Regions from separate parts of the Homo sapiens genome. Here all the other regions are reported to be linked to region 5. The links are microRNA targets in miRTarBase. Many come from high-throughput screens and were not tested one by one. Region 5 holds a microRNA gene; each other region holds the end of a gene's coding sequence. Distances are between the middles of the regions.

Region 1 (4,382 bases), not on the chromosome of region 5:
ACCAAAGTGACCACACCAACCGTACTGATAATCCCGCTTAAAGTGACCACGGCAACCATACTGATAGTCCAGTTTAAAGTGACCACACCAACCGTTTTGATAATCCAGTTTTGTATTTTGACTTCTGAAATATGATCATAAATGTTTAATTCTGGGCCATAACTGGGAAATTAGTTACTGAACATCTAACTTTCAACAAAAAAGCCCATGAAGTTTACATAGATAATTCTTGTGTTTAACCAAGTAATAAAATATTTAATAAAATGAAAGTATACAGAAGAAAATTATGAATTCATCAAATCAGGCCGTTTTGCATCCAGATTGTATTCAGAAAACTTGTTTAACACCTAGGAAATTACTGTCCAAAGTTGATAGTGCTTGGTCTTTTTTATCAGTTTTTATTCTGAAAGCTGTGCATTACTAATCTACTTTTATGTAAATCTGAAATACAGTATTTATCCCATATGTCCACATGGTAAAGTAATCAAGAAAGATATTTTCAGTGCTTAGCACCCCCACCCCAATTTAAAGGAAACTCTGACTGTAGTAAATTCATGCTAATTGAGAACTCTGGGGAAGGGGTTAAAACATTACCCAGGTACAAGTCGGGTGGCCATTATAAACGTTACCCAAATAAAAGCCAGAAACAGGAAGCCAAAAACCAGGTCCCTAAGGCAGGCATGTGTCTTAAATGATATCATTTGTCAAGCTTCCAGCATCTTGTGGTGGTGAACACAAAAAGAAGGTCTGCGTTGTACTGAGGACATTACATCCTCATTAGCTGGAATGTTCCTCAAGTACATAATGCAGGATTTTCATTTTAATAAGAAGCAGCTACTTGTCACTGCACTTTCATTAGATAAACACAGAATGTAATACTAATGACCATTTACAGAGGCTCTATCCTACTCCTGAGGAACTTCATCCAGATGAAATCATATAATGACAAGTTATAGAATATATCATGCAAAACTTCCTTCATTTCTTTGCAAACTATTCCCTGAATTTTTTTTTTTTTAATGCTGAGGTCAGTTAACAGCAGTAGTCATCATCAAAGGAACCCCTAAATGACACTGCTGGTATTTTCTGCCTGCAAAACAGGCTTGAAGGAATAGCATTTGGCTCTTTAGAAGTCATAACCAAATGGTAACAGATCACTGGGACTCCTTGGTTTCTCAAAGAGGCAAGCTCCTTCCACCCTGCCCGGCTGGTGACCTTAAGCCCGACATGCAGAGAAGTCCACGCTGAGAAATAATTTACTCACTGGGATTGTTCCACCCTGGCCCCTTCTCTAAAAAGACTGACAATTGCCCTGAATTATGGATGTACTTTTTGTGATATGTATTACAGTTCAGAAGAAAGGTGTTGAGACCATCGTACCGTTTCACCTCCCATTAGAGGCTGGTCTTGAACAATAATCCCAGAAGATGAAACTGATGCTGAACTATGACCCTCAATTTACAAATCATTTTTCAAAAGAATAAAAAAAAGTTTAAACATATTTTTGGCATTATCTGAATGGGCGGAATCTTTCATGCTTGTTTTCTAAGAATAAGTGAAAACAGCATGCAGTGCACTTTCTTAGTTTGGGGAAAGAGAGAACATGAGGTTTTCAGATTATATTTTATTTTAATCCTGGGCGTTTGAATTTTATTTTTACATAGCTGCATTTAGTATATTCCCTCAAAACACAATAAATTTCTATTCTGTAGCTTAAGGGATCCATCAGTTAAAATGTTGGTCTTTCATCTTTATTACCCTCCCATTAAAATGAAACAAACCGGGACTCACTTCAGTTTCGAAGAAGCAATTTAGTTGGTAATGTCCTTACTCCCCAAGTCTTTACAAAGGGAGAAAGTACATTACTGCTTAGATTTCACACATCTATCTGCATAAGAAGCAACTAAGCCTTTTGGACATAGACTATGTTAAATTTAATAATATTCTTTGATTAGATTATTTTATTACAACATTTTTTCCATTACCAGTCATTTCCTGTGCACAGTTACATTCATAAAACCTGCTCCCCCCTCCTTTGTTTGTTTGTGAATGTAAAAGTGAGGCAAAGTCTCTTTCCGTGTGGCTGTGGCTGTTAGGTCTGAAAGGGATGGATGAATAACTAAGCACCACACTGGACGGGTTTTTCCTAGTCCCCTGCACCAGTAACCCTTTGCTATAATGAGGACACAAAGAGCCTCGCATCAGGCCGCTACCCTTCTTCATAACTCAAAAGCGTCACAGTGGCAATAGCCTCTAGTGCTATTTGTCTTTAGTGCAGTTGTGACACTTCGGCATGATCCATAATTTGGCAGCTATTTACCGTGACATTTCCCTTCAGTGCAGCCATAACATTCAGTGAAGCCATTATTTGGTTCCATTTACCATATAAATTGTATTGTTGTGCATGCATGCTAGCAGCTACATTAGGTACCTGAAAATGAGTAAATCTTGTAAAATAGATACTAACAGCTATTCAGCAGTAGGATTTCCTTGCTCCTCAGATGGAAGGAAAGAAAAATTAAATACAGTCCCCAAATTTCCTAGAGCATCTTTAATTGCGTCCATATTTACTGAGCAGGTTAGATACACCGAAACCTAAGACTTTGAAAAATAATCTGGTGGGCTTCACCTTCAATCAGAACGGGCCCATGGGGTTTCAGCGCAACGGTGACAGCGGCAGCAGTCTTCAGGGCACTAAAGGTTAAGAGGGAAGCCGATGAGCCACAGGCGTGACTCAGAAGAGAGGGTGCAGGTTTCGCTGCTTTTCCTGTGTGGTCAGTGGGTCAATGTGGGACATCAGGCTATAGTGCCAAGGAGCATCTCATTCCACCAGAACACGTGGAGAGAAAAATGGGAATGCAGAATGAGTGGCTGCTATTCTGTTTCCAGAATCAGAGGTAACGCATAGCTTCTAGTTCGAACGCCTCTAAGGAGAAGCAAATGTATTCTTCCTTGAGATGACTGAGGTCTCTACGGTGCACAGGGCGATGGGACATACCGTACCTCGAGCAGTGTAGCATGCTGTTACTAAGGCCTTGCCGTGTGCCTAGACAGCGCTTCCCTCCTGGGGCCCGTGTTTTGTGGTGAACCCCCACTGAGAATGGAGCGCACACTTTTCTCTTTCCTGTGCCTATATTAATTTTAAGTCCCCCTAATCTCTGTGGTTTCCCTTTCCAAAACCTACTTTCTGTCTATGTAAGTTTTCAACATTAATTTGCTGCTTCAGAGGAAAGAGAACATTTCCATTTCACATGTGCCTTATCAGGTTGATGGTAGATAAAAGCCATTACGTGCTACTTCTTCAAAACACATCTGTGTTCACGGAATCATTTTTCTAATAACAAAATCAAATTTGGGAGGGAATTCCCCCAAATGTCCATTTAGATAGTTGGTTGGTGATTTATAGAAAAAAAAAGGACCATTTCCTGAGGATATAGATTCTGAAAATATATGGCTGGCTTTTGCTACACTTGTCACTCATGAACTGCTTATGAGCATAAGACCAAATTCTCCCAAAGCAAAGAAGTCGGGAACCACTTTCAAAACTGATTTTAAAATCTGATCAAGCTGAAGACATACTGACTCGATCAGATCTGGCATCAGGAATGAATTTAGTTCCCTGGAACAATAACATCTGGAACGAGACCATCCATGACTAAAGAATTGAATGTAAGCGTTTTCCCTCTTAGCCATGGAGGGAAGTTTTATTAGCACATTTTTTTTTTTCCCCCAAGGGAAGAGGAGGAGGAGGAGGAGAAGGAGAGACCTATTCATTAACACCTTACTTTTGTTTTAAGAAATATTATATCCATTACCAACTAAAAATAAATTGATTTGAGTAATTCTGAGACATAAAGTGCCCATTTTCTTTCTCCCTTGATTTATGTCATTGTTCTGTTTTTACAGCTTACTGTTGACAGAGTGAGGTAATTCAACTACAATTTTTCCAGTGTTTTTTCCCATGTACATATAATTGACAGCACGGAATATGGACTCCAGGCCAGTAAACCTGCCCTCTGGAGACAGATCTCCAAGGTCCACCTCACAAACCAGGTCTCCGCTCACACACATCTCGAGCAAGTGGCTCATGGCTGCTTGATACTTAGAAAGGTAATGGTTCAGGAAGAAGCCCTGTACGCTGGCAGATTTCTTGAGCAGTTTGGCTGGCAATGTTCCTGCTTTCACAGGCGAAAGGCCAGTAGGAGTTTGGTAGCCAGAGATAAACCCTATTACTATCAAGCGCCCTTTCGTAGCCAGGGCGTCTACAGCCAAGTCAAACATGGCTCCCCCAACAGATTCATAGACCACATCGACACCTTCAGGGTACTCCTGCTTAAGGACGGTACCTACGGGTTCAGTTTTATAGTTGATAGGACGATCAC
Region 2 (4,586 bases), 47 Mb from region 5:
TTAGTAGAGACGGGGTTTCACCATGTTGGCCAGGCTGGTCTCGAACTCCTGACCTTAGGTGATCTGCCCACTTCAGCCTCCCAAAGTGTTGGGATTACAGGCGTGAGCCACCAAGCCCGGCCTTATTATCACTTCTTACTCCCTTATCTGTGTTGGCAAGCTTGGCTAAAGTACAAATAGTAGTAAATACAAATAACAACTCTCCTTCTCACATAGGAAAAAATAAGTGGGTGGCCTAAAAACAAATTTGAGAACTCACCTTAGAACTGAGAATTCTGAATACCTGTCATATGCCTGCTTGATAGAATATTCTCAAAAATGTTGCTCATTTTTTTTATATGCTACTGCTCCTGAAACTACTGGTTTCAATCTGTGAACTGAGTCCCATGAGGCCACTGAACTCAAGGGCAGATTACCCTTGGTGTACCGTGTCACACTGAGTGAGGACCAGTAATTTTTTCGTGTATTTCATGTAGTGTTTTTTGTGTTTTTTTTGTTTGTTTGTTTTAGCTTTTAAGTTGTTGGCATTCAGGACTTTCAACTCCTTTAATGCACATGATCATATATTTAGTGCAGTTACCATGTCGCACATGTAGAATCAAAAGGCAGTTTATTGAACCTCCTTATAGAGAAATCTTGCTGAGCTTTTAGGATCATAATTTTTATGGCTTGCATATGTGCTTTGGCATATCATCTTATTTTAAGTTTTGTCCCCTGCATTTATAATCTCATTTGTTAGGGGTTTTGTTTTTGTTTTAGGTGTACCTGAAGGAAATCTTAAAAGAAATTGGTGTTCAGAATGTAAAAGGGATCCACAAAAACACATGGGAGCTGAAGCCAGAGTACAGACACTATCAAGGAGAAGAAAAGAGTGACTAAGAAGACTCCTAGCCAGCATGCTAGTGAAACGACTAGCAGCGATGCTATGCAAAAGGCGCTGATACTGGAAGGCTTGAACACCGTATGTTAATAGGGGTTAAGTGACAGTACTTTGATTTCTCTCGGTAAATTTTTTAAACCTGTAATTCTTGTAAAGTTTCTTAACTGTTTTTTTGAGGAGAAAGAACAGATTTATTTATAGACTTAACTTGTATTAAACCAGATTATTCACAGTAGGAATAGGGGTTGGAGGATTAAGAGGGTTTTTCTTAAATATTAGCTTTTAATGTGTACAATTAGGAAATTTTTTTAAGTGAGGACTCTCTACCCTTGCCGTATCTAAGGAGCTGAGGTAATACAGATCCAAGGAGAATTGTATAGCAAGAAAAAAACAGTCAACTACAGAAACTCTTAAAAGGAATAAAAACCCAAAGTTCCTTATTTTGAAATTGTCAAAGAACAAAGCGGTGTTTTTCTTTTAAACAGGTGATCACGTTTCGTGTTCATACTCAACGTTAATAAAAGGAGAGAGTTTGTAGTGAAATGGCAGTGTTCATCATTGGCTTATTTTACCGTAGTGATGCTGAGATGAGAAATGTGCAGGATCATGGTCAGTTGATGTTTCTTTTATTTGCTTTTAAGATAATTAGAAATTAAATATCTTTCCAAAATTTGAAGATATGTCTCCCCCAGTCAGATTATAAGCTTCTCAAAACTGGCTTGCCCCCAGAATTTTACTGCTTACCCAGCAGACATGTATTGACCATCACATGGCAAATGATATCAGCAAATCAAAAGATGGGCGTAGGGGTCCAGCCGAGACAGAAAACGTTAGTTTCAATTCCTGGGGCATTAAAATGTTGCTTTTCTCTTTCTCTTTAATTAATTTTTAAATGAAAACAATACATGTATATGTTAGTTTTTTCTAGCACAACACAATATTATATATTAAGCGATCCAAAATCATACTGTCAAGACCATCAAACAAAACAAAGAAGCTTAAGTGAACTAAGCACAGGGAAAAGTTGTTTTTTCACTCGTTCATTTTGTCATCTGCTTCTAGATGCTGCAATCAAGAAGTAGCAAATGCCCAAGTTGCCATAGTGTTTGCAGGAAAAAAAGAGAAAAAATAATAAAAATAAGGAAGGAGCAATGCCAAAAATTGAAGAAAATATTATATAATTAAAGCAAGAAGATATCTATCCATTGAGAAAAACAATTTTTATATTATTTGCTTTTAGCAGCAAAGCATTAGAATTCTGAGATTGTTATAGCACTAAGAAGATTTTTATTCTGTGTACACACTGAAAAATAAAATTCTGAGTAAAGAAAGTGTTCCCATTCCCCACTCCACCTCAGATTTTCTTATGTACAGGCACCAAATGTGGTATGCCCATCACCTTCTAGTTCCTGATGACTGGAAGCTCTGTGTCAGGAAGCCCGTGGATAATGGTCTGATAAATCTATATAGAACTGAGGATTCTGGATACCTGCCATGTGCTTGGTTCATAGCATGTATCTTCCCCAAAACCTTGTTTTTTTATATATTTGGTACTGCCCTGAAACAGACTGTGTCTCCTCTGCTGATGTCTTTTGTTTTGGGGACAGTGCCTGCCATATTGAACGAGGTGGCTGTGCCACAAGAGTTCCCAGGGCAGAGCTGTGTCTTATTTGAAGCTGTGCTTTGGTTTTTTTGTAAACTGGTTTTTTCTGCTTCTTTTAGTTGCCTGTTACCTCAGCACACCTGATTGCATGAGCTTGAGTCTCTTAAACACTTATCTCTTCAGTAGGATACATAATTTAGGTGCTAGACTGATGCTGTTTCTGATTACGTTTTTGTTTGTTTGTTTGTTTGTTTTTGAGACAGAGTCTTGCTCTCTGTTGCCCAGGCTGGAGTGCGGTGGTGGTGTGATCTTGGCTCACTGCCACCTCTGTCTCCCAGGTTCAAGCGATTCTTCTGCCTCAGCCTCCCAAGCAGCTGGGATTACAGGCGCATGCCACCACACCCGGCTAATGTTCGCATTTTTAGTAGAGACGGGGTTTCACCTTGTTGGCCAGGCTGGTCTTGAACTCCTGACCTCAAGTGATCTGCCCACCTCAGCCTCCTAAAGTGCTGGGATTACAGGTGTGAGCCACCGCACCTGGCTTAAATTGCTTTCTTATTTAATGTTAAAATGTGGGTGCTGGCCATGGAGGAGGTTTTCCCTTCCACCCAGGTTCCCTTATTCTTTTATTTCAGGACTCTCTTACTCTGACAAACAGACTTTTGACAAAGATCAATAAGTAGGAATCCTAAACCCTTATAAACTGTGAGAGTGAAAGGAAGACAGATAAAGAAGATGCACACTTCTGGTAAGATGTCACATCATAAGACAGGAAGGCCATATTTTTTTCTTTTTTGAGACAGATTCTCGCTCTGTCGCCCAGGCTGGAGTGCAGTGGTGTGATCTGGGCTCACTGCAAGCTCCGCCTCCTGGGTTCACGCCATTCTCCTGCCTCAGCCTCCGTTGTAACTGGGACTACATGCGCCCGCCACCATACCCAGCTAATTTTTTTGTATTTTTAGTAGAGATGGGGTTTCACCATGTTAGCCAGGATGGTCTCAATCTCCTGTCCTCATGATCCACCTGCCTCAGCCTCCCAAAGTGCTGGGATTACAGGCAAGCCACTGCTTCCGGCCAGGAAGGCCATATTTAATAAATGATATTGTTAAACTCAACTGATACACTGAGGGGATGCTTTAAGTGACAAAATATAATAAAATTATAGTTGTGGCTGGCCATGGTGGCTCATGCCTGTAATCCCAGCATTTTGGGAGGCTAAGGCAGGCAGATCATGAGGTCAGGAGTTTGAGAAAAGCCTGGCCAACATGATGAAACCCCAACTCTACTAAAAATACAAAAATAAGCCAGGTGCAGTGGCAGGCACCTGTAACCCAGCTACTTGGGAGGCTGAGGCAGGAGAATTGCTTGAACCCAGGAGGCAGAGGTTGCAGTGAGCCGAGATCTCGCCACTACACTCCAGCCTGGGTAACAGAGCAAGACTCCGTCTTGGATGGGCGAGAGGGGAGATATAGTTGCTGGGCATTGGAAAGATTTGAAATTACATGTTACCACAATAACTTCTTTTTTTTTTGAAACGGAGTTTCGCTCTTGTTGCCCAGGATGGAGTGCAATGGCGCAGTCTCGGCTCACCATAACCTCCACCTCCCAGGTTCAAGCGATCCTCCTACCTCAGCCTCCCGAGTAGCTGGGATTACAAACATGCGCCACCACGCCCAGCTAATTTTTTGTATTTTTTAGTAGAGACAGGTTTTCTCCATGTTGGTCAGGCTGGTCTCGAACTCCGGACCTCAGGTGATCTGCCCACCTCAGCCTCCCAAAGTGCTGGGATTACAGGCGTGAGCCACTGCACCCAGCTACCACAGTAACTTCTAAAGTGATAGATCTGCTGGGTGCAGTGGCTCACGCCTGTAATCCCAACACTTTGGGAGGCCAAGGCGGGCAGATCACCTGAGGTCAGGAGTTCAAGACCAGCCTGGCCAACATGGTAAAACCCTGTCTCTACTAAAAATACAGAAATCAGCTGGGCATGGTGGTGCAAGCCTGTAATCCCAGCTACTTGGGAGACTGAGGCAGGAGAATCACCTGAACCTGGGAGGTTTCAGTGAGCCAAGATGGCACCACTGCACTCCAGCCTGGGCGACA
Region 3 (4,586 bases), not on the chromosome of region 5:
AATCCCAGCTACTTGGGAGGCTGAGGCAGGAGAATCACTTGAACCTGGGAGGCGGAGGTTGCAGTGAGCCAAGATTGTGCCACTGCACTCCAGCCTGGGCAAGAAGTGTGAAACTTTGTTTCCAAAAAAAAAAAAAGGGGATCATCCCAATAGATGCAAAAAAGTTCAATACAACTTGATGAAACACTCAATAAATAATGAACAGAAGGGAACTTCTTCAAACTGAATTAAGGCATTTATTAAAAACCTGCAGCTAACATCATACTTGATCAGGAGACTAAATGCTTTCTCCATCAGATTAGATAAAAATATTGTCATATCACAGGGCTATCCTTAAGTCAAAATGAACCATCCAAATAATACTCAGAAATAACGACAAAGAGTAAAGAGCAAAAAATGGGAATGATTCACATGAGACAATACTCTATGGTAAACTTTACATACTGATAAATTGATACCAAGTCCTTATTAGCAAAGAAAATGGAGTCAACATTGTATCATGCCAAAAAGAGTAGTTTTCCCCATAATAAAGGAAAGTGGAATACATATGATGGGTGAGGAATATGCAGAATCTGCCACATAACACCAGTAAGAAATCTCTATTAATAAAGACTCATGGGCCGGTCGCAGTGGCTCACTCCTGTAATCTCAGCACTTTGGGAGGCCAAGGTGGGGTGGATCACAAGGTCAGGAAATCAAGACCATCCTGGCCAGTACAATGAAACCCCGTCTCTACTAAAATACAAAAAATTAGCCAGGCATGTCGGCACGCGCCTGTAGGAGGCTAAGGCAGGGGGATTACTTGAACCCGGGAGGTGGAGGTTGCAGTGAGCCAAGATCGCGCCACTACACTTCAGCCTGGCGACAGAGCAAGACTCAGTCTCAAAAACAAAAGAAAACAAACAAAAATAGACTCATTTTGTAATGGCCCATTCATCACAGAACAATTAAACACTACATAAAAATTAAACCTGCTTACATATTAGAAATAAATTTCACTTCACCCACAGATCCAACACTTTAAAATGGATAGAAAAAAATGAAAACCAAAATGGATAGAAAAAAATTTTATTAACTAACTTAGGATAAAAACACTTCCTATTAAACCTCAGGTACCACTGCTTAAAGAGTATCATTCTCACATTTCCTTGCAAAAGTGGAAACCCATAATCCAAAGATCCTTTTTAAGAATGAGTCACAGGGGCCGGGCAAGGTGTCTCATGCCTATAATCTCAGCACTTTGCGAGGCTGAAGAGGATGGATTCCTTGAGGTCAGGAGTTCAAGACCAGCCTGGCCAATGTGGAAAAACCCTGTTTCTACAAAAATACCAAAAATTTAGCTGGGCATGGTGGCGTGCGCCTGTAATCCCAGATGCTTCGGAGACTGAAGCAGGAGAATTGCTTGAACCCAGAAGTCAGAGGTTACAGTGAGTCAAGATCGCGCCACTGCACTCTAGCCTGGGCAACAGAGTGAGACTGTGTCTCGGGAAAAAAAAAAAAGGCCAGGCGCGGTGGCTCACACCTGTAATCTCAGCACTTTGGGAGGCCAAGGAGGGCGGATCACAAGGTCAGGAGTCTGAGACCAGCCTGAACCACATGGTGAAGCCCCGTCTCTACTAAAAATACAAAAAAATTAGCCAGGCGTGGTGGCATGTGCTTATAATCCCAGTTACTCAGGAGGCTGAGGCAGGAAAATTGCTCACACCCAGGAGGCGGAGGTTGCAGTGAGCCGAGATTGTGCCACTGCACTCCAGCCTGGGCGACAGGGCAAAACTCCATCTCAAAAAAAAAAAAAAAAAAGAAAGAAAAAAGAATGAGCCACTGATAAATGCTATATATTTATAACTTTGTGTAATAACTCATTCATGATTAAGTTTTTGAGCATTATATAATAATTAATTTGCATCAGGCTTTCAAAATTACTTACGTTTATAGGATTTCTTTCGAGTGGATGTTCTCACATGATTAATTTTTTTAGACAGGGTCTCACTGTTGCCCAGGCTGGAGTCCAGTGGCGCAATCTCCACTCACTGCAACCTCGACCTCCCAAACTCAAGCAATCCTCCCACCTCAGCTTCCTGAGTAGCTGGGACTACAGGCGAACACCATCATCCCTGGCTAACTTTTCTATTTTTTGTATACATGGGATTTCTCCAGGTTGCCAGGCTGGTCTTGAATACCTGGCCTCAAGCAATCTACCCACCCCAGCCTCCCAAAATGCTGGGATTACAGGGGAGAGCCACTGTGCACAGCCCATGTGAATTTTAATTATTGTTAAAATGGAAGTTTCCTGTATTTTCCAAACTACTAACGTTTCCATCCAGTGTGTATTCTTCGATTCATACCATCCATCTCCAGTGTGCACTGACACGTGTCTTTGAATGGAGATGAGAGCAATGAGAGTTTCCCCATATTCTGTACATTTCTACAATTTTTCTCCAGTATGAGTCCTTTTATGGCTCTGAATAGAACTGGAATATCTGAGGTCTTTGGATTTTTTTCCAGTTAGTCTTTTCATATCTTTGGAAACTGAATGTATTCCCATATTCCTTACATTCATAGGATTTCTCTCCTGTATAAATGAGAATTATTTCTTTCCCTTTTTTTCTGAGACAGAGTGTCACCGTCATCCAGGCTGGAGTGTAGTGGCACGATCTCAGCTCACTGCAGCCTCAACCTCCCAGGCTCAAGGGTTCCTCCCACCTCAGCTTTCTGAGCAGCTAGAACTACAGGGATGCACCACCTCACCCAGTTAATTTTTTTTTTCTTTGGAGATATGGGGCCTTCTTTTTTTTGTTTGTTTTGAGACGAAGTCTCGCTCTGTCACCAGGCTGGAGTGCAGCGGCGCGATCTCGGCTCACTGCAACCTCCAAGTCCCTGGTTCAAGCAATTCTCCTGCCTCAGCCTCCCGAGTAGCTGGGACTACAGGCACACACCACCACGCCTGGCTAATTTTTGTATTTTTAGTAGAGACGGGGTTTCACCATGTTGGCCAAGATAGTCTCCATCTCTGGACCTCGTGATCCACCCACCTCGGCTTCCCAAAGTGCTGGTTTTACAGGCATGAGCCACCACGTGATATGGGGCTTTTTTGTGTGTGTGTGTGATGGAGTCTCACTTTTGTCGCCCAGGCTGGAGTGCAATGGCGTGATCTCGGCTCACTGCAACCTCCACCTCCCAGGTTCAAGCGATTCTCCTGCCTCGGCCTCCCGAGTAGCTGAGATTACAGGTGCCCACCACCATGCCCAGTTAATTTTTTTGTATTTTTAGTAGAGACGGGGTTTCACCATGTTGGCCAGGCTAGTCTTGAACTCCTGACCTCAGGTGATCCACCCGCCTCAGCCTCCCAAAGTGCTGGGATTACAAGCGTGAGCCACCGTACCCAGCCGATATGGGGCCTTCTTATGTTGCCCAGGCTGGTCTCAAACTCCTGGGCTCAGGTGATCCCCCTGCCTCCTGCCAAAGCACTGGCTACGCCCGGCCAAATGAGTTCTTTCATGAAGTCTAAGGTAATTTGAAAAAGTAAAGACTTTACCACACTGTTTACAATCAAAGGGTTTTTCTCCAGTGTGAGTCATTTCATGTCTTCGGAGGGAACTGCACCACCCAAAGGCTTTACCACACCTTGTACATTCATATGGCTTTTCTCCACTATGAGTTTTTTTATGTCTTCGAAAACAACTGGGATAATTGAAGGTTTTACCACATTTATTACATTCATAAGGTCTTTCTCCAGTGTGAGCTCTTTCATGTGCTTGAAGGGACGTGGGACATCTAAAGACTTTGGCACATTTTTGACATTCGTAGAGTTTTCCTCCACTATGAGTTCTTTCATGTCTGTGAAGGGAACTGGAACAACTGAGTTTTTTCCCACATTCCTGACATTGGTGGGATTTCTCCAGCGCGTGAGATCTGATTTCATGTGTCCGAAGGTAACCTGCGGAAATGAAGGCTTTACCACATTGTTTACATTTGTAAGGTTTTTCTCCAGTGTGAGTTCTAACATGAATTTGAAATAAACTGGGATAATCGATAGGTTTTCCACAGTATTTACATTCATAGCGTTTTTCTCCAGTATGCATTTTTCCATGTTTTCGAAAGAAACTGGAAACTGTGAAGGCTCTCACTATTTCCCTACATTTATAGGACCTCTTTCCAGTGTGAGTTCTTTGATGGATTTGAAATAAATTGGGAGAATTAAAGGCTTTCCCGCACACCTTGCATTCATAAGGTCTCTTTCGAGTTGGTGTTACTGTGCGCCGTGCACCACTACTGGGGGAAATGGAGGCTTTCCCATGTTGTTTCTGTTTACGGGGCGTCTCTCTCCATTCCCCACCACACTCAGATCGTTTGTGTCCAGCATGAGCTCTCATGTGCCTGTCCAGGAATGAATGACGGAGGAAGACTTTCCCACACACGCTGCATTTGCATGGTTTCACTCCAGTTTGACTTTTCTTGTTCAGGTGACAATCAGGAATCTGGCTGAAAGTTTCTCTGTGTTCATTCCCTTCTTTACGTCCACAGAGTCTCTCCACCAGACTTCTATGAAAAATGACAAACGCATTATCAATGCTTGGTTTATTAAT
Region 4 (4,586 bases), not on the chromosome of region 5:
TTTGCTGAGCTCTCTCTTTTTGGCTCCAGTCACTCACTGTTTAGAACAGTTGGAGCAACTACTGCAAAAAGGGCCAATTGACCAATCCAAGAAAGAAGAGAGCCAGTGATGTGCTTTTCATTTAGCTTTCAGCATGCCCAGAGCCCTTCAGCAGCAGGCAATAAAACAAAACTCATTTCCGCTTAATTGAATTTTTCTTCATCTCACGGTTTCCAATTTTTAAAGTGCAGTGTTTAAAAATGAGCCTCCTCAGGCCTTCCAGACCCTGCTGGCTGGGGAGGTATGGTCATTATTTTCATGGTTATAACCAAGTTGTCAGTCGTGGCACGTGGAAGTGTAGGTGCAGAGAGTGGACTGTCATACAACACACAGCCTTTGCTCATCAGAAGCCTTGAGCCCCCTCCTGTAAAGAGGCAGTTGGAAATCACCAGTTTGAGCTTCTGAGATAGGAATGTCTTTTGTTTTACAGATTTCTTACACTTCCTTGCAAAGTGAGTTTAATGATGAAGATCTAATGGCCCAATTATCTTACTAGGTTTCATGTTTTACACTGCCCCCCCCCAAAAAAAGTTTAAGGACACTGCCAAATGGTTTTCTTGTGGCTTAATTTTTTCCTCTTTCCCTGATGTTTCACAGTATTCATTTGCAGGAACAGTGTTATCAATGATAGTTGATCTTTATTTTACGTTATATTCATAACTGTCAGATGAGACAAGAAAGAGAAAGCACAAAGACTGAGAGGAATTTGCCTGAGGTTGCATAGCAAGTCCTTGAAGGGCCAAGAACCTGACTCCCAACACTGATTTACCCATCGGGCCAGCTTCTTAGCCCTTAAATCTGGTATTTCCTCCATGGTTTCATTACGTTCCAACAAACAGAGATTCCTCCATAGCCCCTCAGTTTCCATTTTGCTTATACCAGTTACCACTGGAACTTGGGGTTTTAACTAATTTGCTCCTGGATTCAAGAGCTTCCTACTCTAAAGTCGACCAGCCAGGCACTGCAGATAATGGTTGCCTCTAGAAGGTCTCATTTCATTTTTAAAATTCATCCATGTCATTTTAGCAAGGGGGGAAACAGCTACCATGTAGCACCTTATACCCCATAATAGACTTCCAAGCAACAGAGGAGTGCCTCTAAGAGAAGCTAAAAGTAATGAATGCCCGGCTTTTCTCCATTTCCAAACCCCAGAAGAGTCCTGTCATGCAATGGCTCATTAGTGGCACCAGCCCACCCATAATGCTAACCCAACCTGTAGGGAGATCCATTTAAAATCTTAGACCTACTGTGGCTGTGCTTCTAAACAGGCAGCAGTGTTTGCTGCTTTCTGGGGAGGTGGCTCTGGAAAACAAAGCTCTCCTGGTTTTCAGGCCAGTGCTCTCAAGGGTTTTTCCAGCTAACCAGCCCTACTGATGCCAAAGAACTATTGACCTCGTCAACTGCTCACTGAGTTCCTCAAGAGATTTATTATATTATTAGTATAAATGAGGAAGGCCTCTCCTTCCACTATTGAACTGGGAATTAGTATGATTAACTTACAAAAACTGGTCAACTTACTTACAGTGATCTTAAACAGTGCTACACAGAGGAGGATGCCCCCCCCCCTTTTAAAAAGCCTGCTCTCCCCCACACTATACTCACCAAAAACTTCAAGGGCCTCTGAAATCCCATGAGTTGCTAAGCCAAATAGTCAACCTGCAACAGTGATCTGGGTGGGCAGCTTTTCATCTGGTTCATTGCCCAGCAGAGCCTTTTCTCCTGTGTATTTTAAGCAGCCTGCTAAGAAGGGTGTATTTAAAAAGCCATCCTCCAAAAAGACGACTGCATTTTCCTTTCCTCACATGGCATTTGTGTCTTCCTCCCCACCCCAGTGTTCATGATTGGAGAATTCCCAATAGCACAGAATTGGCTAGGATTAACACAACATCATCCATAAACATGGAACCTCAAGAGAAGTGTCTATGTTTGCAGACTTCTCAAGCAAAAATCATGACCACTGCAGCACACCAAAAAACGAGGGTACGCTATAAAATTGGTCAGAGAAGAGGGCCCGAAGGCTGATCCCGGAATTTACTGTTTTAAAGAACTTACTTAATTGAACTTAGTTTAGTCCTGGAAAAGGGCTTACAAAAGATGTAGCAGTCCAAGAGGAACTGTGTATTCTTCCTTTAGTCTGCCTATGACATGCCTAAGTCTTTGCAGTCCTCAAAAGGTGACCAACCATTCGTAGAAGGAAGGGTCCTTAGGGTCTCTGGCCCCATCACTTCATGTGATAGGCAATGCCTTCTCACCCTTTCCTACTCTGCTGATCTCATTTAAGAGAATGGGAGGCCAGAAGAAGCAAACACAGCTTCCCAGAGGGACAGGAATAAATTCCAGCTGGCTAAATTCCAGTTTGCACATGGAGAGCTTCCTGATGGTAGATGGGTGCACAAGGTGGGTGGGAGCTGCAGCACCATTCAGGACAGCGTTTCCCACAGCAGTGCAGTCTGTCGCAGGAGTGGCAACTCGTAAAGCGGGGGTTGGCCTTGCTCTGGCCTCAGGCTTAGTGATTTGCTACTGCAAACCTGCACAACGGGGAGTCCCTGCACCACCACTGGCCAGAGAGTTCTGGCTTTCTGACCATGGGACTGCAGCCCAAGGCATGGCAGGTGTCCAGCCAGCAATCCAGAGAGATGCAGCCCAAGAACCACTTAGAACCCTTTGGACAATTTTAGGGCTGCTCCCTAAATTACTCTTCCCAACCAAGGTAGGCCAAAAAAAAATTGCTGGTTCCTGGAAATGACCAAAACTGTCCTCCAATTGAGTCAGCTAGGACAGCAGAGAAAGCTTTCAGAGGGGTAGACTTGCAAGCTCATCTAAACCAACTCCTTCAAAACAGACTCCAAATATTTCACCCTACAAGGGATGGGGAACTCTGGAAGACTGGCATCAGCCGATATGGCTGAACAGACTGCAGGTTTGGAATCCAAATGTGTCTACAAATGTTCACTGATTGATTGTCATTTTGTTCTCCCCACATTTTAGTTTTGCTCATTTTACAGCCCACAGCCTGTCTTGTGGAATAAATGATACAAGCAATTGAAGAAGGCACACTGTGCACCAAGGGGACGACTCAGGCAATCTGCAGCGGTGGTCCAGGGCTACTCAGCTCAGCCTCAGTCACCTGCAATGAAAACCACCTCTTGCCATCAGAGTCAATGATATAGATGGGACACTTAAAAACCAAAACAGGTTCATATTCTCTGGTTTGTAGGAAAGAATTCATATCTTCACAGCAAAAATAAAAAAGGAGGGGGCATGTTTTTAATATCAAACTGGCCATCAAAGTGTTCACTGACCTTTAATAACTGATCTTTTCATTTTGAAATATAGGGTTCAATAAGGATGGTCCAGAAATCACTTTTATTTTACTCAAGGGCTGTGAGGCCTCTACCTTAGGAGTCTCAGTTCTGGTGAGAGCAGTGTTTTGGGAGGCATTGTGTGAGACACACCAGTTGGAGCAAAGTTCCCAAAGGCCAAGGGGGCCTATCACAGTCACCTTGTGCTACCAAAGCACTGAGCAGCCAAGCCCCTAAGCAGAACAGCAGGGGAGAGACCCAACAAGCCAGTGTCCCTAGAGCTCTAGGCCATTACCCCCTGTGCTGTGTTCTGAGATGAGTCTGCTCTCCCACTGCTTCCCCAGGGAAACAATGCCCTAGTGTGGTCTCACAGCCTTCTAGGAATCAGCGGAGGACTTCCATTGAAAATAATGGAAATTCACATTGGCGTACTTTCGATCCTTAAAAGGCAAGTCTCTTTTGATCCTTGAAGATATTCTCTCAAGCCAGGGGGGCAGGTAGGGTGGGGAGGAGAGAAGTTTAAAAAGGAGGATGATCCATTTCATCGAGCCAAGAGCCTGGGCTAGTTGGAAAGTCGGGATAGCCTACACTGCTTCCTGTGGAGATGTCAGAGGTGGGTCCCCCAGCCATGGCTCTCAGCGTCTGGCTTACTCCCTGCCCTGCATGCGCAATGATGCCCAAATTACTGTCCACCGTGTAATCCAGCCCATTGAGCAAAGGAGCGTGGGATGGCAGGGACGATATGGAGGATGGAGACTGGGGGATTCCATAGGGGCTCCCATCCCTCAAGTCCTGATAGGATTGTCCTGTCCCGTCCATGGAGAAGCTCCCATTCATTAACTGTCCGCCTGTAACGTCCCCCACGTTGCCATAAATCCTATTGGTGTGGCCAAGTTCTGAGAGAATTTGATCCTCTGTGGACAAAAGAACGGAGATTTATTGTCAGCTGCCAGGACTCTGATGGTCCCCTGCTCTTCACAACCTAGGAACACACATGACCAGGAAAGATGCCCAAGGATGGCAGCTGCCTTGCAGCCAAGCATGGGTCAGACACACCAATATGGCAGCCTGATATCCAGAGGCCAACCCAGGCCAAGGAGAAAAACAAGAAACACCTGCAAAGACTAAATTCCCAGGTCCCAGAAGGATGGACAAATGTTTGGTGAGCTCGTTGGTCCCTTGTGGCTCGTGTACTAATACTCTGGCTACACTGAGGAGGATGAATGCCTAAGGCTGGGTGGGTCA
Region 5 (4,586 bases):
AGAGTAGAAAACTTTCTGCATCCCAGAGAGCAATGATTTTTATCATTGAACAGTGGAAGTGTTTATTTCCAAACTATTTAAGTGCTGCACGTGACCCCAAAGTTTATCTTGAAATTAGTTACTACACTGAGACACAATTCTGTGAGAAATGGAAGTAAATTTTAAGTGATCCCATCTCAGGCTAAGTAGCTTGCTGAGAGTTGTGAGACAAACATCTCTATACTTTGATGCTTTTCTGTGAAGAAAATCATGATTATAAATATGGACTATATATAAATATAGTAAAAAAAAAAAAAAAAAAAAGAAAGTAAAACCTATGCTATTACAGGCCAGGAGAGCAGATCCCTTTGATGAGAAGAGGTAAGGATTAGTGATTGGAAGGAAATATGAAGGGAATTGTGAGGATGGATGAATTTCTGTTTCTTGATTAGGGTGTTTATGTGCAATTTTTGAAGTCATCAAACTGTATACTTATAATATTTGCTCTTTTCTTCATATTCTACCTCAATAAAAATGTGAACATATGCATGAACATACATACCCAGATACGTATGTGCCTGAGTGTGTGTGTGCGCGTGTGTGTGTGTACAGGCATATAAGTTTGTAAATTTAATCCAGTATCAAAACTCAATGAAAACCCATTTTTTTCTAACGTGGCTGTGACTAATTATTTAAGGATTGCAAACTTACTAAACAGTCCAAAATCTTTCAAACCAATTTAAATCAAAGCATAATATTATCGAAAGATTTAAATTTATGCATCACTTTTCCGTGATGGAATGCTAAGTAGATCCTATCCAATGCTTACTTCAGATCCACTTCATTTCCAAAATGCCACTGAAGCATAAGTTAATTAAATTACATAGATTCTAGGCAGTGATGGGAAAAGTAATATTTGATTAAGTGCATATGCCTGCAAAAATCCCTCCGTTGCCATACGTGCTGATACATCAGCTGCTTAACTGCTGGCATTTTTAATCTATCCAAAAGGAAGACATATTTAAGTAGGTTAGTTATTCCTTGGCTTGTGAAGTGCTATCATTTTTGTTGTTTGCTAATAGTCCTGTAAGGCAGAATTCATTCAAAGCCAGACAGGAAATGCAATGACATAAAACCTGGTATTTAGAGTGCATATGCTCAGAATTCACAGCGATACTGTGTCGTAGGTGGTGGTTTCTTGCAGGCATTGCATTTCTCTTGATTCATGATAATGTTTGAAGCTTTGAAAGTGAAATTGACTAAAATTAATTCTACTTGTGAAACTGCCCTCCGGAAAACTGTTCATGTCTATGTGTATCAATGTGCTAACATAGCAATAGCATTTAAAGGCTTGACAATAAAGGCAGTTACTAACAAATAAAACATTAGAAAGGGCTTTTTTAACAAGTAAATTTCAGGGGAATGGTTTCAAGTTTAGACAGAATTATATACAAGTTCCCAGATGTTCATATAAATATTAATATATCAGTTATTTTCTATTTGACTCAATTATGCACAAATCAGCACATAATAATTTAATCAAGCTCTTCATCTCTCTTTGACAATACATTGCATCATGGAGTAGAGAAAGAATGTGAAATTCAAGGTGGCTAGTCTACTGCTAAACTCTGATGAAATGACACAGAATAATGATTTAACCACCAAACTAAGAAAAATCCTTCATTTTCATGTACATTTTACCTATGTCCATTCACTTATCTAATGATCCTATACATATTTATCAAGTATTAGTATGTGCAGGGCTATGTCTTCGTTGCTAGAGATACATCTTGTGACTCACCAATTCTCTGTCCTCATGGAGTTTCTATTCTAACGGGGAAACAGAATACTGGCAGAAAACAAACCAGTAAATACATCATGTGTCAGATATTGATGAGACACGTGGAGAAGAATTAGGCAAGGTAATTTGCATAAAAATTGTGAGATGAGATGGAGTGCTGATGTTGTTATTTTAGTTGAGGGATATGGACAGGGTTACTCGAAAGGTGGTATTGGAGTAGATAACTGAAGGAAGTGAGAGATACCCACGTGGATACCTGAGGCAGGGCTGCTCTCAGAAACTCACCTAGAGTTTGCCATTAAGCTTGCCATTACTACTTTCAGAAGAACTCAGAATATTAATTTACTTTCTCCACATTCCCTACAGTATGGATGAAGAAATATCACCACGTTCTTTTGTTTGTCTAGACACACAAAATATCTACAGTAGTTGGAGGTACAGACAGAGCTGGGACTAAGGCTTGATTCACCTATTCATAAGCCAGGAAGGAACTCTTGGTTGAATGTAAAAAACAAAAAATATGGTCATATTGCAAACAGAAAAAAAAAAAGTCAGCTTCTAAAAGGATAAAATATAGGGCAAGTTTCTTGGCAGGATTTTAAATGATTCTGTGGAACTTCATTATGACATATTTGTCCCTAAACATTATATGTAAGTTTTTATTTTTAACATGTGCTTCTTCCTCTTAGAATGTCTGTTTACATACTCTTCTTGTGCATTTTAAAAAATTTATCTATAATGTGCAGTTAAACTTTTCAGCGCATTGTTTCCCGAAAACTCCAAGCTGAATTGTTCTCGGTTCTTTGTGAATTATTAGGTCAGTGCAAAAGTAATTGCGGGTTTTGCCGTTGCTTTTAATGGTAAAACCCACAATTATGTTTGTACCAGCCTGATCCTAAGCAATCTCATTATCGTCTAGATTCTGCCACTTTTCATTGTATTATTATATCTATTTTTTCACTAACAGAAATAATTTTTAGTGTCCCTAATGTTTAGTGTTGTGCATATTTTAAAATCTTAATGTTTTCCAAATAAATAAATGAACACGAGATTAACTTACAGGTAGAAAAATGTATAAAACCTCATCAAAAATGATGGCTCTCTAATCAGTATCCTTGCTATACATTGTAAAGGGACATTAAGTATCCACCCAGCCTTTAGAGGTGGAAGACTGGCTCTACCACTTAATGGTTGTATAATAGTAAACACTTTGGTAAGCCTCAGTATCCTGAGTTCTAAAATAAACATATAAATGGTGTTTGTCCCAGTGGTCTGTTTAGGGTCACAGTGACTAACGTATATAAAAGATATAAAAGTGTTTTGTAAATTTTAAAGTGTTTTTCACCTCTTCATTTTTATGACTAATTCTAATATTATCTTATATTTGAAAAGCATAGGGACATAGGAAGGAATTAACCGTGTAACAGATAATGAACTAAAAATTTTCTTAAAAATAATTGACTGAAAAGATATATTGGGTTGAACCTATACTAGTATAAATAGTAGTTCAATAAATCCAAGCTAATTATTGGAGGCAAGAAAACTACAGTGGAAATCTTTGTACTTATCATGAAAGAAGCCTTGTAAAATTTATACAGGAATAACTGTCAACTCCATCACATGCAGGGGGTACAGAATGAGGTAGAACAAAGACAGATACCTATGGAAACTGAGAAGGACTCAGATGGTCTCGTTACTATATGGAACCAAGTTTCTGCTTAGTGACAAATCAGAAATTTATTATGTTTTCTTGTCAGGAGATGTGTACTCAATTGCTGATTATTTCAGAATTAAACCTATGCTAATGGTTTACTATCAGATCCATGTTAATTAAAAATTTAAACTTGAAAATGATTCTGAGATGTCCTTGATATGTGAAGTGCTATTTTAATTTGTTTTGAAACATTCTCCATAATTACAAGCTATACAGAAAAAAAGATCTGATTTTTTTAGTCTTCAAGTCCACAAAAATAGGGACTAATAAAGAAAAGGAAGAACCAGAATTACTTTATATAATTCAGTCAACTTTTTGACACACTTGTAAAACTATTATATTTTAGAAATGTGCAATTAATAGGCATTTTCATGTTTTATACACATATTAAGATGGGTAGTTTTTGTTTTGATGCTATAGAAACATATTTGATCAATATTTTCTCATGGTAAAGCAAAGATTTTCTCAACACACATCGGCAGCACGTTCTTCACATTCATTTGGTCAGGAGATTTTTGTGAATAAATGGGATTTCACATTTATTCTTATATTCATAATAAAATATAAGAATTAGTGCACTTGGCCAACCGTGTAGATTATCCACTTCAGCATTTTGCCTCTGACAAGCAACAAGAAATATATTGTCGAATGTACTGTCTTCTACCTGAATATTACTCTAAAAATTAAGCAGTACATGCCCAAACTGTTGATTTTTTTCAGACTACTCCAAATTCAAACTGTGTCAATTCTGACTAGAAAACCAAACCTCATAAAATTATTATACTATGTCAAGTAATATTTCTTTTTATTTGCCCTCAGTTTTCTTCTCTGTTGGTTCAAAGGAGATTCTTGTTAACTGAATTCAGTTGAAATATATCCTTAGCCTTCATAATTGCAGAATCATTCTTTCTTCAGCTTCACAGTTTTTTTTATCTTTTCAGTCTAGAGTCTACATCATTTAAGTCTGTCCCCAAAAGGCAGACTCTGTCCCTTTGATGTTTTTTGCATGCTGTGATCTGGACCTCAAAACCTTTCATTTTATCATTCTTGTGCAACAATACATATAGAAGAAGCAGGTATAGACTCAGTATT
Region 6 (4,586 bases), not on the chromosome of region 5:
TTTTCAGATAATGACTTTTAAAGGAGAAAAATCGGCTGGGCACAGTGGCTCACGCCTGTAATCCCAGCAATTTGGGAGGCTGAGGCAGGTGGATCACAAGATCAGGAGTTCGAGACCAACCTGACCAACATGGTGAAACCCCGTCTCTACTAAAAATACAAAAAAATTAGCTGGGTGTAGTGATGCACGCCTGTAATCCCAGCTACTCAGGAGGCTGAGGCAGGAGAATTGCTTGACCCCAAGAGGCCGAGGTTGCAGTGAGCCGAGATCACGCCACTGCACTCCAGCCTGGGTGACAGAGCAAGACTCCCTCTGTCTCAAAAAAAAAACAAACAAAAAAACAAAACAAAAACAAAAGGAGGAAAATCGAGAGATATTAAAATTAAAGTTGGTAGTAAGAAATGGTTCTAACTGGATGGCAACTAAGCTGTGTGCAGGGATGCCAAAGAAATATGATTGATATTTTTCTTGGGGAGGAATAGTTGGGCAATAAATGGCTTAACCCTTCATTCAACTTGAACATTTTGTTCTAGTAGAAAGTGAAATAGTTTATTCATCAATCACAGAAAATATTATTTAAAAATCATGCAGGAATGGATAACCAATGTCTAGAAAGTAGGTCAATATAGGACTTCAGCACAATTTTTGAGGACAAAGTCCACAAAGTAGTAACACAATACCTGTAGGACTGACCTGATTCCCAATTGCGGCTTGTTTTTGTTACTTTCTCACTGCTGTTACTCAAAAATCTAAACAGCAAGTAGAAATTTGTACCAAGAAAAGCTGCACTTGGCAGGGAAAACATAATTCAAATTGGAGCAGGCTCCTGATAATACATATCAAAGGCCTTAAAGTTACACATATCCCTATGACAATTATCCTAGCCAATGACAGCAGTGACAGGCTCCAAGAATTTAGGTCAAAAACTCATGACAGTATCATTCTTACAAGTCAACTAATTTTACCATTAAAAAAAAAATCTCATTCTAACATCAAGAAAAATCTTGATGTCTCAGGAAATCGTCTCCCCTCACTCATCTGAAAAAAGCAGTATATCCCATCTTGGTAGCCGACTTTATTCACTCAACTTGATTATACACTATTTTAGGCAGGTGTGTTTGGTTTTTTGGTTTTGGGGGGTTTTTTGTGCAGATTTCTTTTGTGTGTGTATGGTCTTTTTACAAAGTTCAACTGCATCCATATGGGATGATTCACTAGTTGAGGATATTCAAGATATGCAAGTATTAGAAGCATTAATAATAGAAGAGCCTCTGAAGTGACTCATTTCAAGGAGGCTTTAGAAAGATGCGGTCACTTAATCTGGTAAAAAATCACGTTCTGGGAGGGATTTTCAGAAATTTCAGCATATAGAGAAGTGACAAGGATAATAAGCAGTACAACATACTTGAGCTTGGGTTTTGAAATCAGATATGGGCTTGAATTATCTGACCGAATTACTCTGTGTAAGTTTCTCCATCTGAAAAGTAGGCCAAATGAGAAGAGCTCCTTGTAAGAGGAATAAGAATATATAAGTGAACCATGGGATATCTGCACCATGCCGGGCACTTTGAATGTATCATCTCATCTAACTGCCATGCTCTATGAGACAGCTATTAGTCCTATTTCACAGACGAAGTAAGGTTAAAAGGTTAAATTCCCAGAGGTTACATGTCTAGTAAGAGACAGCCAAGATTCACTCTCAATAATAGAATTCTAAAATATGCATTTCTCTTAAACCAGGATTCTTTAAATGTTATTAACCAAGAGCATTTTTCTAGGTTTTTAAATAGGATTATCATAAATGTACACTAAACAACTTCCTCCACATCAAAAGTCACTATAAAACATTCTCAATAACCTTCATAGTAACTTGAAACAAGCCAATTTAGGAAATTACCAAACCACCTAATTGGATATATTATATAAATTTATTTGTTCGTTGTAATTTTTTGCTTTTCTGATAATCATTATCCCACAAAATACACATTCCAAGACTGAGGAAAGTGAGGTAACTAAAAGTGCTTTCACAATACATTCATGTTATTGTGTCCCGCAATCTATAAAGGCAACCCACTTACAGTATATGGATTTTAGCTTTGGTATCCAATTAAATATCCTCAAAAATGAATCATTTTTAAAGGTTATATGGTAAAATTAAAACATCTGATTATGTAATTATGTAATTCTAGCATAAAAAATTAAAGTATCTTTTTATTCCTAGAATACAAAATAGGAATAACTGCTACATACTTAAATTGTGCTTACGTTTGATTTTCCTATTCCAACACAACTGGCCCATGAAAGGTCTTTCTTTTCTCTCTATATTATCACCATTATTGCTCAATGGGCAGTATCTAAAAATAGAATCTAGAAAGCCAGAAACCACAAAAATAACATCTTGGGGCCAGTTTGAAGCAAAGTAAACAGAATATACAATGACAGACAAACAGGCAGAATCACCTAAGACGAAAACAAAATTCCACTTCATTTTAACGAATGTAGTTAAATTGAATAGGCTCATTATCAAGAGCTGAACACGGCTCTCTGTTCTTTCCGGTATTCTAAAAGATGCATAAACACAAAAACCATCCAGTTCTAGATTTGAAAATTGAAGGGAATCGCTTTTAATCTATTCTGGCTCAGGGGATTGCTGTAAAAAAAAAAATTAAATAAAGATGTATATCACACAATTACCTGGTTGTCTAATTTATAATGACAAGTCATGGGAAGCCTATTTGCAGGAATTGGTTCTGACTTGGAGAAAAAAAACACAACTTCTTGAAAAGGTAAAATAGCTTAAAGCATTTAATATCTAAACAAATCAATCTGTTAATAGTAGTCACAAAATATGCTTAATATAGAAACCCACATTCATGTTTTTAAGAAAAAAGTGTAAATTGTATTCCACCTCAAAACATAAATTAACCCGCTTAAAGAATCTTCAGCGGTCAAAGTCATGGTGAATTTTAAACAACTTCAGAGTAAAATAACAAGTACTTTATACTGCTTTATATCTAAAAAATGCTTACAACTTCTCATAAAAATAGTTTGAAGCAACTATTTTTTCTTTTATTTTTTAACAGACACGTTCAACATTACGGGCAACATTTTTAAAACCTTAAGCTTTACAGACTTTCAAACATTCAAATACTGTGGTCCCTTTCCTTTGATGTGGTTTATTCAGCTAGAAAAGAAAACATGGTAGACAACTTAATACATTTTCACCAAATTGAAAGTAGTACAAAAATTTTAGGACTCTACCGAACTACACATCGTACCTAATGTATCATTAAAAATAGAAGACAGTATTTTCTTCAGCAAATAAAACAGCATACTAATATGCTGCTAATGCATACCTTTTAATGTGTACTGTCATTCATAAATTATTTACAACTGCTACTGTGTGAAGAGAACTAGAATGTAAATTTTCTGCAAAACTGGAAAAAAAGCAATACAAAATTTGTGAAAGCCTGTGTTTTATACTATACAAAAGTCAGTTTTTCTCTTCAAATACCAGATATTGTATGCAGTGATATTTTGGACACATTATAGTAATTCTTGAGGATGTTTTAGTGCTGGAGGTAAGTTTACAGGCCTCGATTCTTCATCAAGGAGTACTAGATCTTCTATTTCACTGCCTCTGTATTTCCTTTTACATATTTTTACCACCACCTTTTTCTTGAGAAATAACTTCAATGCTTCTCTTGATGCAACTGCTTTTGCATTTTCTTTGCTTTTTCCACAGCCAGTGCCCAAATACACAGACTTGCACCTCAATTCACAAACAATACTTTCTTGAGAGCTCTTATTTTGAGGCAGATCTGCCAATTCTTTTAGTGGGACAAAAAATACATCCAGTGTTGCTTTCAGAGCCTCAATAGCTGCATTTAGGAGCTCTCCATGATTCACATTGGGACTAAAGCCACCAACAGCTACCAACTTCCATGCCACCGTTTTATATAGTCTATTGAAAAAAGGTTGCTTCTGTTTCACATCTTCATTGGTTAACTTGCAAGAGAATTTGACAGAACTCTCACTTGACTGTGAAGTACTTTTAGAAGGCAACTGTGAGGTGCTAGTCTGAGAACTACTCTTAGAAGCCAACTGGGACACACTTGCTAAGGAAGTGCTTTTGGAAACCAGAGATCCACTGGTCTGGGAGCTGCTCTTGGAAGCTAGTAGTGATGCAGCTACCTGGGAAGTGCTCTTGGAAGTTAGCAGCGATGTATTTGTTGAAGAGCTGCTCTTGGGAGTCAGTAAGGATGTGCCTGATGAGGAACTGTTTTTAGCAACTGATGATGAAACACTTGCCTCTGAACTAGTTTTGGAAGTTAACCCACTTGAAGCTGTCTCTGAACTAGGTTTGGAAGACAATAGTGGCAATTCTACCTCTGAGCTTCCTGAGGAGCCCAACAAGGGCACCTCGATCTCTGAGCTGCTTTGAGAAGCTGAGGCTGAAGAGCCTTCCAAAGCACTCTTTTTAGGTGATCCACTTTGTTGTCTAGAATCAGTGGATTGGGTCATGTGACTATTCACACTGGATTTCAGCAAGGAAACAAATGATGCAGAACCGTGTTTATCTGGAG
Region 7 (4,568 bases), not on the chromosome of region 5:
ATCTTCAGACATGACCTGTACTCCACACAGGCCAGAGAGAAATAGAGTTTCAAGTTATTCTGCTGAGGCACTCATTGGAAAGACATCTTCTAATTCAGAGCAGAGAATGGGGATATCAATTCAGGGTTCCAGAGTTTCAGATCAGCTTGAAATGAGAAGCTATCTTGATGTTCCCAGAAATAAGAGTTTGGCTATTCATAATATGCAGGGTCGTGTGGACCATACTGTGGCCTCAGATATCCGCCTTTCTGATTGTCAGACGTTTAAACCAAGTGGAGCTAGTCAACAGCCCCAGAGTAATTTTGAAGTACAATCTTCAAGAAACAATGAAATAGGTAACCCTGTATCATCATTGCGGAGTATGCAGTCCCAGGCTTTTCGAATTAGTCAAAACACTGGCCCCCCACCAATTGACCGTCAAAAGAGATTATCTTACCCACCAGTTCAGAGCATCCCAACAGGAAATGGTATTCCATCAAGGGACAGTGAAAATACTTGTCACCAAAGTTTCATGCAGAGCTTACTTGCCCCTCACCTCAGTGATCAGGTCATTGGGAGCCAGAGGTCACTCTCAGAACATCAGAGGAATACACAGTGTGGTCCATCCTCTGCAATTGAATATAATTGTCCCCCAACTCATGAAAATGTCCATATTAGAAGAGAGAGTGAGAGTCAGAATAGGGAAAGTTGTGACATGTCGTTAGGTGCAATTAACACCAGGAACAGCACCTTGAATATTCCTTTTTCAAGTTCCTCTTCCTCAGGAGATATTCAAGGTCGAAACACAAGCCCCAATGTTTCTGTACAGAAATCCAATCCCATGAGGATTACTGAGAGTCATGCCACCAAGGGCCACATGAACCCTCCAGTCACAACCAACATGCATGGGGTTGCAAGGCCAGCGTTGCCACATCCATCTGTGTCTCATGGAAATGGCGATCAAGGCCCTGCTGTACGTCAAGCTAATTCTTCAGTTCCCCAGAGATCAAGGCATCCCCTGCAAGACAGCAGTGGTTCCAAAATTCGTCAGCCTGAAAGGAATCGTTCTGGAAACCAAAGGCAAAGTACTGTCTTTGATCCAAGTCTTCCCCATCTTCCTCTCTCTACTGGTGGCAGTATGATTCTTGGACGTCAACAACCTGCCACAGAGAAGAGAGGAAGTATTGTTCGTTTCATGCCTGATAGCCCACAAGTACCTAATGATAATTCAGGTCCTGACCAGCATACACTATCACAAAATTTTGGTTTTTCTTTTATTCCTGAGGGTGGCATGAATCCACCAATAAATGCTAATGCTTCTTTCATTCCACAGGTTACTCAGCCTAGTGCCACTCGAACTCCAGCCCTCATCCCGGTAGATCCGCAAAATACTCTGCCCTCCTTCTATCCTCCATACTCTCCTGCTCATCCTACACTGTCCAATGATATTTCAATCCCCTATTTTCCTAATCAGATGTTCTCAAATCCTAGCACAGAGAAGGTAAACAGTGGAAGTTTAAATAACCGATTTGGATCAATTTTATCTCCTCCCAGACCTGTTGGGTTTGCTCAACCAAGTTTTCCTCTTCTCCCAGATATGCCACCAATGCACATGACCAACTCTCACTTATCCAATTTTAATATGACATCTTTGTTTCCAGAAATAGCCACAGCGCTTCCTGATGGCTCAGCAATGTCACCTTTGCTTACAATAGCAAATTCCTCTGCCTCTGACTCTTCCAAGCAGTCCTCAAACAGACCTGCCCATAACATAAGCCATATTCTAGGTCATGATTGCAGTTCAGCTGTTTAAATACTGATAAACAAAATGTAAAGGTAATGAGTGAGATTACAAATGTATTTGTGCGTGCATGTGCACAGACATGTACATGAAGAGAAGGATTGTGTGTGTGTGTCTGTATAATCAGTTTTCAGTTATCTTCTGAATGTAGGGAAGCCATGTCAGATGCAGATACTGGGTTGTCAGAAAACAAGTTATCTTTCGTTTTCAACTGCATGGTGTACTTTTTTATTTTCCAAGTAGATTTACATTTCCAAGTTGATATTTCCTAAATACTAATTAGCTGGAAATTGGGGGAGATCATCTTGTCATGTACTGGGTAGTAGGAGGGAGCCTAGACTTTAAACTTGATTGTTGATAACTTATGGAATATGTAGGTAAGTTGCTACTGAAAAATATAGGCAGCTTGATAAAACACAGTGGCTCATAATCAAGTGCTGGCTAATGTCAGCATCTAGAACAGCTTCTTACCTATGACAGATGTTGAACTGATGTTGAGTTTAATGTCCGTAGTTAAAGTCAAGCAGTTAGCAAATAAATAAAAGCAATCAGCCTTTATTCTCAAAGTTTGGTTTAGATACAGGCTTCTTTCTAAATTATAACAATGCATAAATTATCTGAATTTTATGTCTTGTTCTTCAAATTAGGGAGCTGTGTTACCCTTTAATGTGCCAAGATTATTTAAAGCAAAGGTCTTCCTTAGACAATTATTTAGCCGTAAATATAGAAAGCTAAAAAGTTAAGTACATACATATTCTCCGTTTTGTGCTTGCATTTTGCATCGGGTCATAAGGGTAAAAGCAGTTAGTTGTATTGTGGAGTTTTGCATGGGTGCAGTTAACAATGGATGTTTCATCAGCTGAGTTTAATTTAGTATTCTCTCTTCATTCTATTTATTTGGTCTTGAAATAAATTCTTTTGCATTCATTTAAATATTAGGATTGATCAGGAAATAGTGTTTGTAATCTACACGTTTATTTGAGCCTTACTTTAAAAATATTTCTGAACAGAGATTTAAGCTCTGTCAGTATTTTCATTTACTGATAGCATTTATATTTTAAATATGGCATTGTATATTTCATTATTATCCTTCATAACAGAATTATAATGAGAATATGAATTTGTTATTTTTCTTGTTGGTAGATGTGAAATGGTGCTTCAAAAAATATATAGTCTTTCTGTATGTCTCTGTGTGTGTAAGTATGTGTGTGTGTGTGTACACATATTTTAAAGTATGAATTGGTCCTTTAAAAACAGGCCTGCCATCTGAAAATGGGAAATTGAGACCTGAGACCTGCTAAAGCATAGAAGAACTTGATATAGGTAGGGTTTTTTTTTTTTTTTTTTTTTTAATAGATGGAGTCTGGCTCTGTTGCCCAGGCTGGAGTGCAGTGGCGTGATCTCAGCTCACTGCAAGCTCCACCTCCCGGGTTCAAGTGATTCTCCTGCCTCAGCCTCCTGTGTAGCTGGGACTACAGGCACGTGCCACCACACCTGGCTAATTTTTGGTACTTTTAGTAGAGACGGGGTTTCACCGTGTTAGCCAGGATGGTCTTGATCTCCTGACCTCGTGATCCACCTGCCTCGGCCTCCCAAAGTGCCAGGATTACAGGCATGAGCCACCGTGCTTGGCCTAGGTACAGGTTTTTAAAAGCCCCACAGAAGTTTATAATACGTTTAAAAACCCATATTAAAATTTGAAAACTTAAAAAAAAAACTAAGAAAACAATGGCATATATTCCTTTTCTTAAACCTGTGAAGTCCATTACTTTTTGTTCTTGTTATATTCTGCCAAAAATGGGATGGGGTGGGAGAGATGCATAGAAATTGTTTTATCTGCCTTGTTAACAAAGTGAACTCAAGGACCAGCTTTTCTTTTCTTTCTTCTTTTCTTTTTTTTTTGAGACTCTGTCACCCAGGCTGGAGTGTCGTTAGGTGCAACTAACACCAGGAACAGCACCTTGAATATTCCTTTTTCAAGTTCCTCTTCCTCAGGAGATATTCAAGGTCACTTTGTCACCCAGGCTGGAGTCTACAATGGCAGGATCTTGGCTCACTGCAGCCTCTGCCTCCTGGGTTCAAGCAAATTCTTGAGCCTCAGCCTCCCGAGTAGCTGAGATTACAGGTCTGTGCCACTACACCTGGCTAATTTTTATATTTTTAGTAGAGACGGGGTTTCACCATCTTGGCCAGGCTGGTCTTGAACTCCTGATGTCAGGTGATCCACCCACCTCGGCCTCCCAAAGTACTGGAATTACAGGCATGAGTCACCCCTCCCAGGCCCCCCCCTTTTTTTTTAATCCTAAAAAGCTTCCTAAGGGTTGGTCAGAGCAGTTAACTCCAGTGAATACCTCTTCTAAAGACTCAGCAAAAGGGTCATTTGTGCCTCTTTAACTGTTCTTACCAAACTGTCCTGTCTCTTTTCTGCTGCCAACTAAGCAGCTTCCTAGGGACAAAAAAATATACAATATTTTTTTTTTTCTTGCTTACAAAGCAAGAACAACCTGTATTTTCTTTCTTCAAAATGGTCTTGGGGAAGAATAGGAGAGCTTCATGAATAAGTTACTCAAGACAACAGATAAACACAGTAGTCAAAACTTTTTATTGAGGAAAAATGTGGCATTTATGACTTGCTTTTTAATTCTCTTAACTGAATTTTAAGCTGCAACGTTCAAATTTTTCTTTGTACTTGAAAGGTCCAGTGTGCCAATTTCAAGAAGGACAGTTTTCCATGTGTTTGGCTATTCATTTCCCTCTCTCCCTCTCTCATCTGTCTGTCTCTCACTGC

The links. The annotated mature microRNA hsa-miR-548as-3p reads UAAAACCCACAAUUAUGUUUGU and lies in region 5 at 2,642-2,663, shown strand. An mRNA with a match to its seed (bases 2 to 7 or 8) in the 3' UTR can be bound and repressed. Matches are read on the target gene's strand: a 7mer-m8 pairs with bases 2 to 8, a 7mer-A1 pairs with bases 2 to 7 and ends in A, and an 8mer does both.
Region 1: miRTarBase lists PTGR3 as a target of hsa-miR-548as-3p. Seed matches in the 3' UTR shown: 7mer-A1 at 2,015-2,021.
Region 2: miRTarBase lists GTF2F2 as a target of hsa-miR-548as-3p. Seed matches in the 3' UTR shown: 7mer-m8 at 1,140-1,146.
Region 3: miRTarBase lists ZNF101 as a target of hsa-miR-548as-3p. Seed matches in the 3' UTR shown: 7mer-m8 at 1,306-1,312.
Region 4: the mRNA of LHX4 is a reported target of hsa-miR-548as-3p. The part of its 3' UTR that is shown has no 7-base or 8-base seed match.
Region 6: miRTarBase lists CDKN2AIP as a target of hsa-miR-548as-3p. Seed matches in the 3' UTR shown: 7mer-A1 at 3,112-3,118.
Region 7: the mRNA of USF3 is a reported target of hsa-miR-548as-3p. Seed matches in the 3' UTR shown: 7mer-m8 at 3,107-3,113.

The regions. Positions count from the first base shown.
Region 1 is chr18:75,197,516-75,201,897 of GRCh38, forward strand. It overlaps PTGR3 (prostaglandin reductase 3), which reads right to left. Exons shown (of 2, transcript NM_175907.6): 2 at 1-4,382. The coding sequence ends at 3,901. Among named protein-coding and RNA genes, the nearest start is that of PTGR3, 9.4 kb to the right of the region's middle.
Region 2 is chr13:45,282,683-45,287,268 of GRCh38, forward strand. GTF2F2 (general transcription factor IIF subunit 2) reads left to right here. Exons shown (of 8, transcript NM_004128.3): 8 at 760-2,211. The coding sequence ends at 879. Among named protein-coding and RNA genes, the nearest start is that of SNORA31B, 51 kb to the right of the region's middle.
Region 3 is chr19:19,679,137-19,683,722 of GRCh38, reverse strand. ZNF101 (zinc finger protein 101) reads right to left here. Exons shown (of 4, transcript NM_033204.4): 4 at 217-4,542. The coding sequence ends at 3,423. Among named protein-coding and RNA genes, the nearest start is that of ZNF101, 13 kb to the right of the region's middle.
Region 4 is chr1:180,273,854-180,278,439 of GRCh38, reverse strand. LHX4 (LIM homeobox 4) reads right to left here. Exons shown (of 6, transcript NM_033343.4): 6 at 1-4,255. The coding sequence ends at 3,861. It overlaps LHX4-AS1 (LHX4 antisense RNA 1), which reads left to right and starts at 3,759. Exons shown (of 5, transcript NR_037642.1): 1 at 3,759-3,789; 2 at 4,328-4,503. It also overlaps a transcript of ACBD6 not described here.
Region 5 is chr13:92,487,558-92,492,143 of GRCh38, forward strand. MIR548AS (microRNA 548as) reads left to right here and starts at 2,606; the gene lies at 2,606-2,663. The region is part of intron 7 of GPC5 (glypican 5); the gene reads left to right. All of the region lies in intron 1 of GPC5-IT1 (GPC5 intronic transcript 1), which reads left to right.
Region 6 is chr4:183,446,388-183,450,973 of GRCh38, reverse strand. CDKN2AIP (CDKN2A interacting protein) reads right to left here. Exons shown (of 3, transcript NM_017632.4): 3 at 1,910-4,586. The coding sequence ends at 3,547. Among named protein-coding and RNA genes, the nearest start is that of CDKN2AIP, 4.0 kb to the right of the region's middle.
Region 7 is chr3:113,652,168-113,656,735 of GRCh38, reverse strand. USF3 (upstream transcription factor family member 3) reads left to right here. Exons shown (of 7, transcript NM_001009899.4): 7 at 1-4,568. The coding sequence ends at 1,792. Among named protein-coding and RNA genes, the nearest start is that of USF3, 42 kb to the left of the region's middle.